Regions from separate parts of the Homo sapiens genome. Here region 2 is reported to be linked to region 1. The links are microRNA targets in miRTarBase. Many come from high-throughput screens and were not tested one by one. Region 1 holds a microRNA gene; the other region holds the end of a gene's coding sequence.

Evidence for each region. Region 1 holds the annotated microRNA hsa-miR-6124 (GGGAAAAGGAAGGGGGAGGA, at 2,547-2,566, opposite strand). A microRNA usually pairs through its seed, bases 2 to 8, with sites in the 3' UTR of a target mRNA and lowers its output. Matches are read on the target gene's strand: a 7mer-m8 pairs with bases 2 to 8, a 7mer-A1 pairs with bases 2 to 7 and ends in A, and an 8mer does both.
Region 2: miRTarBase lists CEP20 as a target of hsa-miR-6124. Seed matches in the 3' UTR shown: 7mer-A1 at 2,234-2,240 and 7mer-A1 at 2,504-2,510.

Annotation. Positions count from the first base shown.
Region 1 is chr11:12,160,877-12,166,257 of GRCh38, reverse strand. MIR6124 (microRNA 6124) reads right to left here and starts at 2,575; the gene lies at 2,491-2,575. It overlaps MICAL2 (microtubule associated monooxygenase, calponin and LIM domain containing 2), which reads right to left. Exons shown (of 28, transcript NM_001282663.2): 3 at 3,839-4,179. The coding sequence starts at 4,102. RefSeq lists an enhancer at 2,335-2,834.
Region 2 is chr16:15,863,189-15,868,569 of GRCh38, reverse strand. It overlaps CEP20 (centrosomal protein 20), which reads left to right. Exons shown (of 5, transcript NM_144600.4): 5 at 1,054-2,851. The coding sequence ends at 1,130. Among named protein-coding and RNA genes, the nearest start is that of MYH11, 8.9 kb to the right of the region's middle.

The DNA of each region.
Region 1 (5,381 bases):
CTTCAGCTTTCTGGACCTCAGTTTGTGGCCTGTTAAATGCAGAGATTGCACATAACATCTGCTTAAGTTCCTTCTAGCATTAAAGATTTATATATAAAGATAACCAGAGTCCAAAATTTTGTGATTATAGCATTTCCCACACCAAATTACATATTGCAGGTTCTTCTGGGTCGTTTTCCTCCGTAACACTACTCAGTCGGGTGTAACATTCGAGTCAGGTGTTACCCTAATACAGAGCCAGTTATCAATCCTGAAAGAGTTCATTTGGCATGATCCTCAGTTCACCCTCATTCTTATCCAAACACAGTCACGCCCAGGGAAAGAATTATTAATATTCAGTGCCAATAATACCCTCATAAATAATCATCAATAATAAACAATAATCCCAAGTGAGATTTTGGAACTGGCACCTGAGCCACTGCTCTAGAGAGCTCTCAGGCCACTCTGCTTGTCCCCTGACACCTCCATTAGAGCCCGTCCTTCTTCTCCAAATAGATCCTGGTCCCCAATCTCTCACCACTGTCACACGCACGTGTGTATACACGCACATATGGTGGCACGGAGGCAGGAGCATGGTGCTCAGCATATGGCAGCGGCTGATAAATGCTTGTGAAATGCTAAAGCCCAGACCCACTCCAGGTGGTGCTGAGATGCATCCACTTTAGCACAAAGGTCGGGGTTCTGGCTGAATTACATTTATTCTTGCTCTGCCTATGGCTAACCAGGAGCTTGGCTTTATGCCTGGTACCTGACAAACCTGTGTCATCTGGCTTAGCATTAATGATCAGCCACATGTATGCAAATGCCCAGCATTTCTTCCTTGACTAATGCTCAGCATAAACCATGACACCAAAGGATGCCTGAACATGGTATGTGAGCAAGACAGTGTCTGTTCATGTTGGAAGAGGTGAGGACCCCTGTTCTGTGTTTTGACTCACAACAAGGAGTACAAGCACCGGCCTCATGGAGCTGGCCATTAACCACCCACACATGAATGTGATATGCCAGGGGCCTGTATCATGGCCAGAATACAAATCAACACTCACTGTAGATGACACCCATTTTTTGTGTGATTTTTTTATTTCTTTCTTTCTTTCTTTTCTTTTTTTTTTTTTTTTTGAGATGGAGTCTCGCTCTGTCACCCAGGCTGGAGTGCAGCGGTGTGATCTCAGCTCACTGCAACCTATGCCTCCTGGGTTCAAGTGATTCTCCTGCCTCAGCCTCCTGAGTAGCTGGGACTACAGGCACTTGCCACCACACCTGGCTAATTTTTTTTGTATTTTTTAGTAGAGATGGGGTTTCACCATGTTGGCCAGGCTGATCTCGAACTCCTGACCTCAAGTGATCCACCTGCCTTGGCTTCCCAAAGTGCTGGGATTACAGGCGTGAGCCGCGACGCCCAGCCAAGGACACCTGTTGATTATCTGTCTCACACTCCCACATCCTTGGGGATTTGCTCCTCCCTCACATCAATCATGTGATGCTTGAAAGGGCTGCCAATCACAGTAGCCAGTTCCTCTGGCTTTGGCCATAATAAATCCAGAAGTGGGCCAATTAGAATCCTTCTCTGAGGTTTTTTTCAATATTGACCTGGAAGAGACAGATTCCAGCCTTTTGGAATGGAGCTATAAAGATGTGAATGAGAGGCTTCGAACATGGAGAAAAATGTGTTTGCAGGAGGGAAGCATGGAGCCAATAGAGAGCAAAGCATCAAAGCACCCAAGTTAAGGTCAGGACTTAAAGTGTCTGGACCTTCCTGTTAATATGAGTCAATGATTTTCCTGTTCTTTGTGGTTATTTTGAGCTGGGTTTCTGAAAAGCACAGCTCAAGTAGCCTAACACAGTCACAGTTCATACTTACAATGCATTCTCAAATGTATCTTCCAGTCCTCAGCATTCAGGCGGTTTTTACGAGATGGGTTATCTCACATGTGAAATGTCTTTGTTCTTCCTCACAAGACAGGCATAAAAATTCCTGGGCAAGAGGCACCTTACCCAGCATCCCTAACAAAAGGAGCTTTCTTTCCCTTTGCATCACAGAAGCCAGTGGTGACCTGCCAACCACAAGATGTGATGACTGTTCTATTTCAAGCTACCAAAGCTTGTAAAATAGAGGCTGGCCACACCAGCTAGGCAACTGGCTAGTATGTTTTGGAAGAAGGGTCTCTTCTTGGTGGTCAGCCCTCCGTTCCATCCCTCTGCTGGCTGACTCCCTGTGACAATCTGTCTTCAGATCACCAAGAGGGTCCCTCAGCAGCCACAACATGTTGGGTGTATGGGGCAATAGCATTCCCTAATAAAAACCAGAGCTCTGAAAACCCTCTGTGAGAGAACACAGTGCAACTGGGCCACCTGACTTTTATGGGACCTTTAAAAAAAAGAAGCCACCATATACAATTACTAAGAGGGATGACACTTTGGAAGCTAAAAGCTTCCCCTCCTTTAACTCTGAAGAGCCACCCCGTGAACTCTGAACCATGAAGTCACAACAACGAGGAAGGGAGGCACTGGGCAGGAGTGGCACCCAGGACATTGGTCTCACCTTCTCCTCCCCCTTCCTTTTCCCTACCTCCCCCATCTCCTCTGCCTAGCTGGAGCATGGTAGGTTATAAACAGGCACTGCCTGGATAGCTAGTCTGCTCTGGGCTGAGGCGACTGGTCTGTTTCAACCTGATGGAATGCTTTTCCTACGTCCCGCAGTGTCAGTGTGCCCCAGGCTCACAGGAGCTTGGCAGCTGTCTCCCCAGGGGCAGTGGAAAGCAGCATATCCCATGGTGGACTCGACAGCTTCTCACCACCAAAACAAAAACACAACAGTCCCGACTGCCATGGAGAGTTCAATCCTCTTGTCCCGGGATTGGCACCGGCTGGAATTCCTAGGGTTCTAGCTGAGCTACCTCCTGTGAGGTCTAAATACAGCACATTCGATTTTAACCTAAACACACAGCCTGCACCAGTGCTCAGGGCTGGTAGTCCCCAACGGCCACCAGGGAAGTCAGCTGAGACGCCTGGACTCCCACCTGCCCATCTGGTGCTGGGCATTTCAGAAATGTCAGAGAAAGGTTGCGATAGTGAGCCTATGTTCGCCGATGCTGTCTATGGCCAAATGATGGGGGATGCAACCAGTTCGTGTAGGCTTAACTATGAGTGTGGTCCTAGGTAGAGAAATGCATCCTGAGGAAGGGAGTGGGCAGGTGGAGAATGCAGGGGTATCAGGAGGAAGAGAAAGAGACAGGGAGGAAGAGGCAGTAAGGACCTAGACCTATTTCTTAGCCAATTAATCCAAAACCAGGGGATCTTTCTAAAATGTCCACACCCAGGCGAACACAACTCTGTAACTATGCCTCTCCCTGAGATTTAGGTCTTAGGCCCTAGAATCAGATGGACTAAGGTTGCCCTCTAGTTGTGTGACCTTGGGCACAACTGACTTCTCAATTTCCCCATCTCTAAAATGGCCTGAAGGACTGCTGTAGCTGTTCATTGAAATCATGGACATAAAGTACCTTGTACCTAGAAGCTGCTCAACAAATAGCAGCTACTAGAAGTAGTAGTAGTGGCAGCAGGGATAATAGAAGTGGGGGTAATATCAAGCATGGGCTTCTCTCCCTCAACTTTGCCTCTGGCTTCCCTCCCTTGGAGAGGGCACGAGTGGAGGGAACCTCCCAGCCAGGAAAAGCTGATGCTTAGAGACAAAGGAAACCTTTACCGGAGGAAAACAATGCAACATTCACACCCACACCTAAGAACCGTAGAGTGCCAAAATGGCAACAGCTTCCTAACCTCCCAAATGTCAACCCACACGCCCTGCAAAGGTAAGACTAGGAGGGTTTCCCCTTACCTTGGTGTTCGTGCACGACTTCCCTCGCTTATACTCTTTGTGGGAACCACGCTTATCCAATTTGTACCACAGGGCTTTGGCTTTCCAGGTGGTCACCTTGGACTTGAGCTTGGAATAAAAGTTTCTGTGGTCCAGAGGGTCTAGGTCCAGGTGTCGTGTGAGAATGTTGAAGGCCTGGAGGGTACCTTTGCACGTGGATGCCTGGACAAAGTTCTCAAAAACCTGCCCCGCCTGGGCCTGCTTCTCATCCTCGTTTTCCCCCATGGTTCAGGAGTCGTGTGCGGCAGTGGTGCGGCGAGGACACAGGTGAACAGCATGAAGTATCTGGAGAAACGTCACACCTGTGAAAGTAGGGGGAGGCAGAGGTCAGCTTTGGACGATGAGGTTAGGGTGGGGGATGGGTGCTGAGAAGTAAAAATGCAATTTCTTTAAGACATTCAAATATTAACCACACTATTTAGTGTTCAATACTAAACATAAATATTTATAACAGATACAGAATTGTGCCTTTTGGCCTGTCGATGTGGCATTGCAGGTAATCTCTTCCCCTATGCTCTGCTCCTCTTGCTGGCTGAAAAGTACCACAGATTGCACAGGGCTATGCCCTGGCTAATGCCAACAGTACCTAGTCAATCTTGCTCTAAGCCAAGTGGTTCTGCAAATAGTGACTAGGAAAAGGGAAAACAACCCAGAAAAGTACACTATATATAGCACCATTGAAAGTCTATCATTCTCGGTGCTGCAAATTGGTTGGCTGATGTGAATATAACCCAGCCACATTACACTAAGGCACAGACAGAAAAAACTCCAGAGAACATCTCTCTAGATTTCATGACTGCCCACCTCTCCGTAGACACCCAGCTTTAAAGCCTTTCTTCATTCGTTACCAGAGAGCAGGGCTTTCCACTATCCACATGACAAACAGTCTCTTCTCAAAACTTCTGCTCCTGGTATCAGCTGGAAGCACACCATCTACCTCAGTCAGACTCACAGACAGACAGACAGAGACACGTGGACCTCCTCCGCCTGTGCAAAGGGGGCCTGTGCTTTGTAATTCCAGGCTGTGAGCTATTTGGAACAAGTGCTCCGGCTCATGGAAGGGAAAAATGCGATGGGTGCTCATTCACATCCCAAAAATAGCTTGCCTGGGCTTTGGCCATGGTCCTTTCTGCACCATTCTAACCTCAGACATTTCTTAGGAAAGTCATTTAAGTTTCAAAGGAACAAAAATAAAGTAGAGCTGATTTTCCAAAGCACTAGCTGTTTTTCCAGAATCCAAAGCTGGCACAAGAAAACAAATGTGGAGGAGCTGGGGCTGACCCAGCTGTCAGGAGGGCTGGAGGGGTCTCTGAGCAAGAGGGCACAGCAGACCGAGCTCCACCGATGAGGCCTGGTAAGAGGAGGTCAGCAGCACACAGAGCGCAGGCCTCACGGCAGCTCTGTGCTCCCCAGAGGGGCAGTGTTCATCGTGGACAAGTTGGAATTGTGGGACGGTTTTATAATACTAAAAGCAGAGAATGGTGTTTATCTTCCTCCTTAATCT
Region 2 (5,381 bases), not on the chromosome of region 1:
TTCCTATTATCAAAGTTGTTGCAAGAAAGATGTTTTATCAGTTGTAGAAAGTGTTTGGGGTTCATATATTCTCAAGAATCTAGTTTTTGCATTACATTTTTGTTGCATTAGGATATTAAGTCTCTAGGTTCTTTTTTTTTCTTCTCGAGACAAGAGTCTTGCTCTGTCGCCCAGGCTGGAGTGCAGTGGCACGATCTCGGCTCACTGCAACCTCCACTTCTGAGTTCAAGCGATTCTCCTGCCCTCAGCCTCCCAAGTAGCTGGGATTGTAGGTGCCCGCCACCACGCCTGGCTAATTTTTATATTTTTAGTAGAGACAGGGTCTCTATCTCCTGACCTCAGGTGATCTATTTGAAGTGGTTTTCATTGTGTTGTAATTGAAGAGCTTTGGCAACCCTCAAAATGCTGATTGAACACCTTGTCCTTTCTTGCAAATTTCATTCCTTACATGTAAGAGAGAGGTTTGTAACTACTTATGCATGGGTTTACTGCAGGTTGTACTCTACTCAAAAAAAAAGTCAAGAAACTCTTTTGAATAATTAGAGTCCCTAATGCCAGACATTTCTGATTTCTTTCTTTTTTTTTTTTTTTTTTTTGAGACCGAGTTTCACTCTTGTTGCCCAGGCTGGAGTGAAATGGCACGATCTTGGCTCACTGCAACTTCTGCCTCCCAGGTTCAAGCAATTCTCCTGCCTCAGCCTCCCGAGTAGCTGGGATTACAGGCGCCTGCCACCACGCCCGGGTAATTTTTGTATTTTGAGGAGACACGGGGTTTCACCATGTTGGCCAGACTAGTCTATAACTCTTGACCTCAGGTGATCCACCCACCTCGGCCTCCCAAAGTACTGGGATTACAGGCGTGAGCCACCACGCTTGGCCTCTGATTTCTTCAATAGTGTTTAAAAAATAATGGGTTTTTTTCATTGTCCTAAACCATCTAAAGTACTCATAGAATATTAAATATGTAACATCCTAAGATATTTGTAGCTATGTCTACCTATCTGTGTGTTTTGACTTGGGATAAGTATTAACATTGGTTTCTGTGCATTTCAGATGACCACCTAAGAAAGGAGGAACAGAAAAGTACTAACATTGAAGATCTTCATGTTTCTCAGGCAGTCAACAGATAATGCTTTGTTTGGGGTATCTTTTGTCTTAAAATTGTATTATTAATTAAATAACTTATTTATTGTCCCAATGTTACCAAAATGCACCACTAATGTTTGTAGAAATTGGAGTTTCTACAAAACACCCCTCATGTTTAACTACATTTGTGAATAAAAGCTAACTCTTGTCATCTAGCTTATTGGATTTGACTTGAAAAAAAAAGTATTGTTTTTACGAAGTATTTTTTGTTTTTTTGAGATGGAGTCTCGCTCTGTCACCCAGACTGGAGTGCAGTGGCACGATCTCGGCTCACTGCAATCTCTGCCTCCCGGATTCAAGTGATTCTCCTGCCTCAGCCTCCCAAGTAGCTGGGAAAACAGGCCTGTGCCACCACACCGGAGTAGTTTTTGTATTTTTAGTAGAGATGGGGTTTCACCATGCTGGCCAGGCTGGTCTTGAACTCCTGACCTCAGGTGATCTGTGTGCCCCAGCCTCCCAAAGCGCTGGGATTACAGGTGTGAGCCACTGAGCCCAGCCATTTAGGAAGTATTATAAAGGCCCTTAAAGTTTGTAAGGAAATGAAAGGGCTTTGTATTACCTTTTCAATAGGCAACAATGTACTTTTTCTTTCCTTAGACTTTGGCTTACTGGAAGATTTAATTAAAAGGTAGAGGAGAAGTAAATTTGCTGTAATAATTTTGCTGTAAATAAAACAAAGAGTTTATTTTATTAGATAAAGAATGTGAAGTAAGCATGAAGAGACAGGCTTTGGGAGAAATACCAGAAAGGGATTTTTCAAAGATGGCATTGTTTAATCTCCGTGTGGCCCTCGGTTGTGCAATCACAGATGAGCCAGAAGAGGGCCAGCCCCCTACTTGTTTGGGCTCCGAAACTCTTACCAAACATCAATTTTTATTCTTGGGATAGAAAAATAGTATGTGCTATCTCTAATACGCTACTTCGATATTTATTAAAGAAGTATTTTTAATGTAGTGTCCACAGGCTCATTTCATTGAAAACAACTGACTATGATGATAGACAGCTCCTGATTGGCAAAAGTTCGATGGTATATTCAGAATTAAATTTTGCCTGCACACCTAAACACTGACAACATTTAGCTTAAAGGTTTTCCATGGAGAAGAGTGGTAAGAGCTGTAGTTAGCAAAATTGGCATCCTCTTTAGGGTGTCAATTCTGTGCTGCTTTGCAAATTGTTGAAACTTTTGATTTTCTGTTTGGCAATGCTAGTCAGTGTTCACTTCTTACAGATTAGCCAAGAATTTTTATCTAAATGCAGAAACTTATTAATGAAATCCATTTAAACTATACTTACACAACATTTTGGGAGGCCCTGCTGGTAAAATTATATATGGATGCAGAAGTATTGCAAGAGTCCATTTTCCATTTTTAAATCTGCAATATCTGATTACATTGATGAATTCCGTTGTATTGTATGTGTGAATATAAATATCTGAATTCTCCCGGGGGACTTGGTTTTCGTCCAAGGATGTTGGCAGTGGACACTTAGTTTACCTCAGGAATTGCAATCATGTAAGACTATATTCGGAAAAAATGCTGGAGTATATAATTTTGGATACTGATATAAAATCATCAAGATGGAAGTTAAGCAGAATTGTCACGTGTAGTCCATAGCGCTTTTATATGCATTATTCTGTAATTTGTTTGTACTGCGGCAACTTTTTATACTTTCAATGTATCATTTAATAAAAAAAATAAGCAAGTCACTTTGGTGCAAAGGGTGTTCATATCACTGTTCTCTCATCAAAAGCCACACATCAAAAACAGAAGAATGATTGGAGATGGCTGCCATGCCTTCCGTCGGGATCTTCAGAAGCTTCGCTGTTGAGGGGTGGAGGCGGGGGTACTTTCCTGCCGTCTGCACATGTTTATAGGAAGGAAGGAAAAGCACAGAGGACAAGCCAACCCTTCTCATAAATGTGTTATATTTAAGTACCTTACTCGTGGGTTTCTTGGAATTGTCGGGAGAACTTATCTTCTAGAGATGCTCCAGAAGTTTTAGGAGAAAACTTGGATTTACACAAAAACAGGATGGGAATGGGAACTGAAGAGGGATTTAGGAAATGTACAACTTGGGTGATCTAAAACCTCATAGCAGGAGCAGAGGTGGCTTTTGAAGAAGATAAATTTAAGCTTAGTGTATATGCTTGCACAGAACAAACTAATAGCCTTATAATGATGTGCAAGAACACATTTGTGTATCACTCACATACCTTTATGTTGATGTAAAATTTGATGTGTTCTTTTAAAGCCAAGTGTACATGAAAGATGAACATTTGTGAGAATATGCCTTTAAAGGCATTTGGGACAATGCTTCCCGGCCACTTGGTACTTGATTTTTTGGTAACAACCACGATTCGAGGATTGTGTGGTGTTCAGGAATCTTATTAAAATAAAAGTGAAATAAAACTGCTGGCCAGGCTTGGTGACTCAGGCCTGTAATCCCAGCACTTTGGGAGGCCGAAGCGGGTGGATCACCTGAGGTCAGGAGTTTGAGACCAGCCTGACCAATATGATGAAACCCCATCTCTACTAAAAATTAAAAAATTAGGCGCGGTGGCATGCGCCTGTAATCCCAGTTACTCAGGAGGCTGAGACAGGAGAATCACTTGAACTGTGGAGGTGGGGGTTGCAGTGAGCTAAGATCGAGCCATCGCACTCCAGCCTGGGCAACGAGTGAAATTCCGTCTCAAAAAATAAAAAATAAAAAAAAAAAAGCTACCTTTAGGCTGGGCATGGTGGCTCACGCCTGTAATCCCGGCACTTTGGGAGGCCAAGGCGGGCGTATCACCTGAGGTCAGGAGTTCGAGAGCAGCCTGGCAAACATCGCAAAACCCTATTTCTACAAAAAATACAAAATTAGCCAGGCGTGGTGGCATGTGCCTGTAATCCCAGCTACTGGGGAGGCTGAGGCAGGAGAATCGCTTGAACCCAGGAGGCGGAGGTTGCAGTGCGCTGAGATCACGCCATTGCACTCCAGCCTGGGCGACAGAGTGAGACTATTCTCTGGAAAAAAAAAACAAAACAAAACTACTTTTATAAAAGTAGACTCGTTTTTTAGAGCAGTTTTAGGTTCATGGCTAAATGGACTGGAAGCACAGAGCTCCTGACTGCCCCCTGCACCCATGCATGTCTAGCTTCTCCCACTGTCAAGATCCGGCATCGAGTGGCACATGTATTCCAATGGGTGGATCTATTTTGACACATTATTATCACAAAAAGTCCATAGTTACATTAGGGTTCACTCTTGGTATTGTACAGATGCTCTTTGACTCATGGGATTACATCTCAAAACTATCACAAGTTGAAAATAAGTCAAAATGCATTTATTTATTTATTGGATAGGGTCTCACTCTAGCACCCAGGCTGCAGTGCAGTTGTGCGATCTGGGCTCACTGCAACCTCCGCCTCCAAGGCTCAAGTGGTCCTTTGCCTCAGTCTCCTGAATAGCTGGGACTATAGGCACATGCCACCACACCTGGTGAATTTTTGTATTTTTTGTAGAGACAGGATCTCACTATGTTGCCCAGGCTGGTCTCGAACTCCTGAATCCAAGTGATCTGCCCATCTTAGCCTCACAAAGTACTGGGATTACAGATGTGAGCCACCATGCCCAGCCCAAAATGTATTTAATACACCTCACCTACCGAGCATCTTAGCTTAGCCTAGCCTACTTAACATGTTCAGGTCACTTAGATTAGCCTACCATTGGGCAAAATTATCAAACACAAATCCTATTTTATAATAAAGTGTTGACCATCTCATGTAATTTATTGAATACTGTATTGAAAGTGAAAAAACATGGTTTTGTCGGTATTCAAAGTACGGTTTCACTGAATGCACCATTTTCCCACCTTCATAAAGTTGAAAAATCGTTAAGTTTAACCATTATAAGTTGGGGACTGCCTGCACATTCCATGGTTTTGGACAGATGTCTAGTGACATGTATTCACCATTTTAGTATCATGCAGAGGAGTGTCACTGCCCTAGAAAATCTTCTCTACTCCACCTATTCCTGTCTCTTCCAGAATGTTGTATAGTTGGAATCGTACAGTACGTGGCCTTTTCAGATTAGCATCTTTCATTTAGTAACAAGCATTTAAGTTTTCTTCCTGCCTTTTTTTTTTTTTAGACAGAGTCTCGCTCTGTCACCCAGGCTGGAGTGCAGTGGTACGATCTCGGCTCACAGCAAACTCCATCTCCCTGATTCAAGCGATTCTCCTGCTTCAGCCTCCT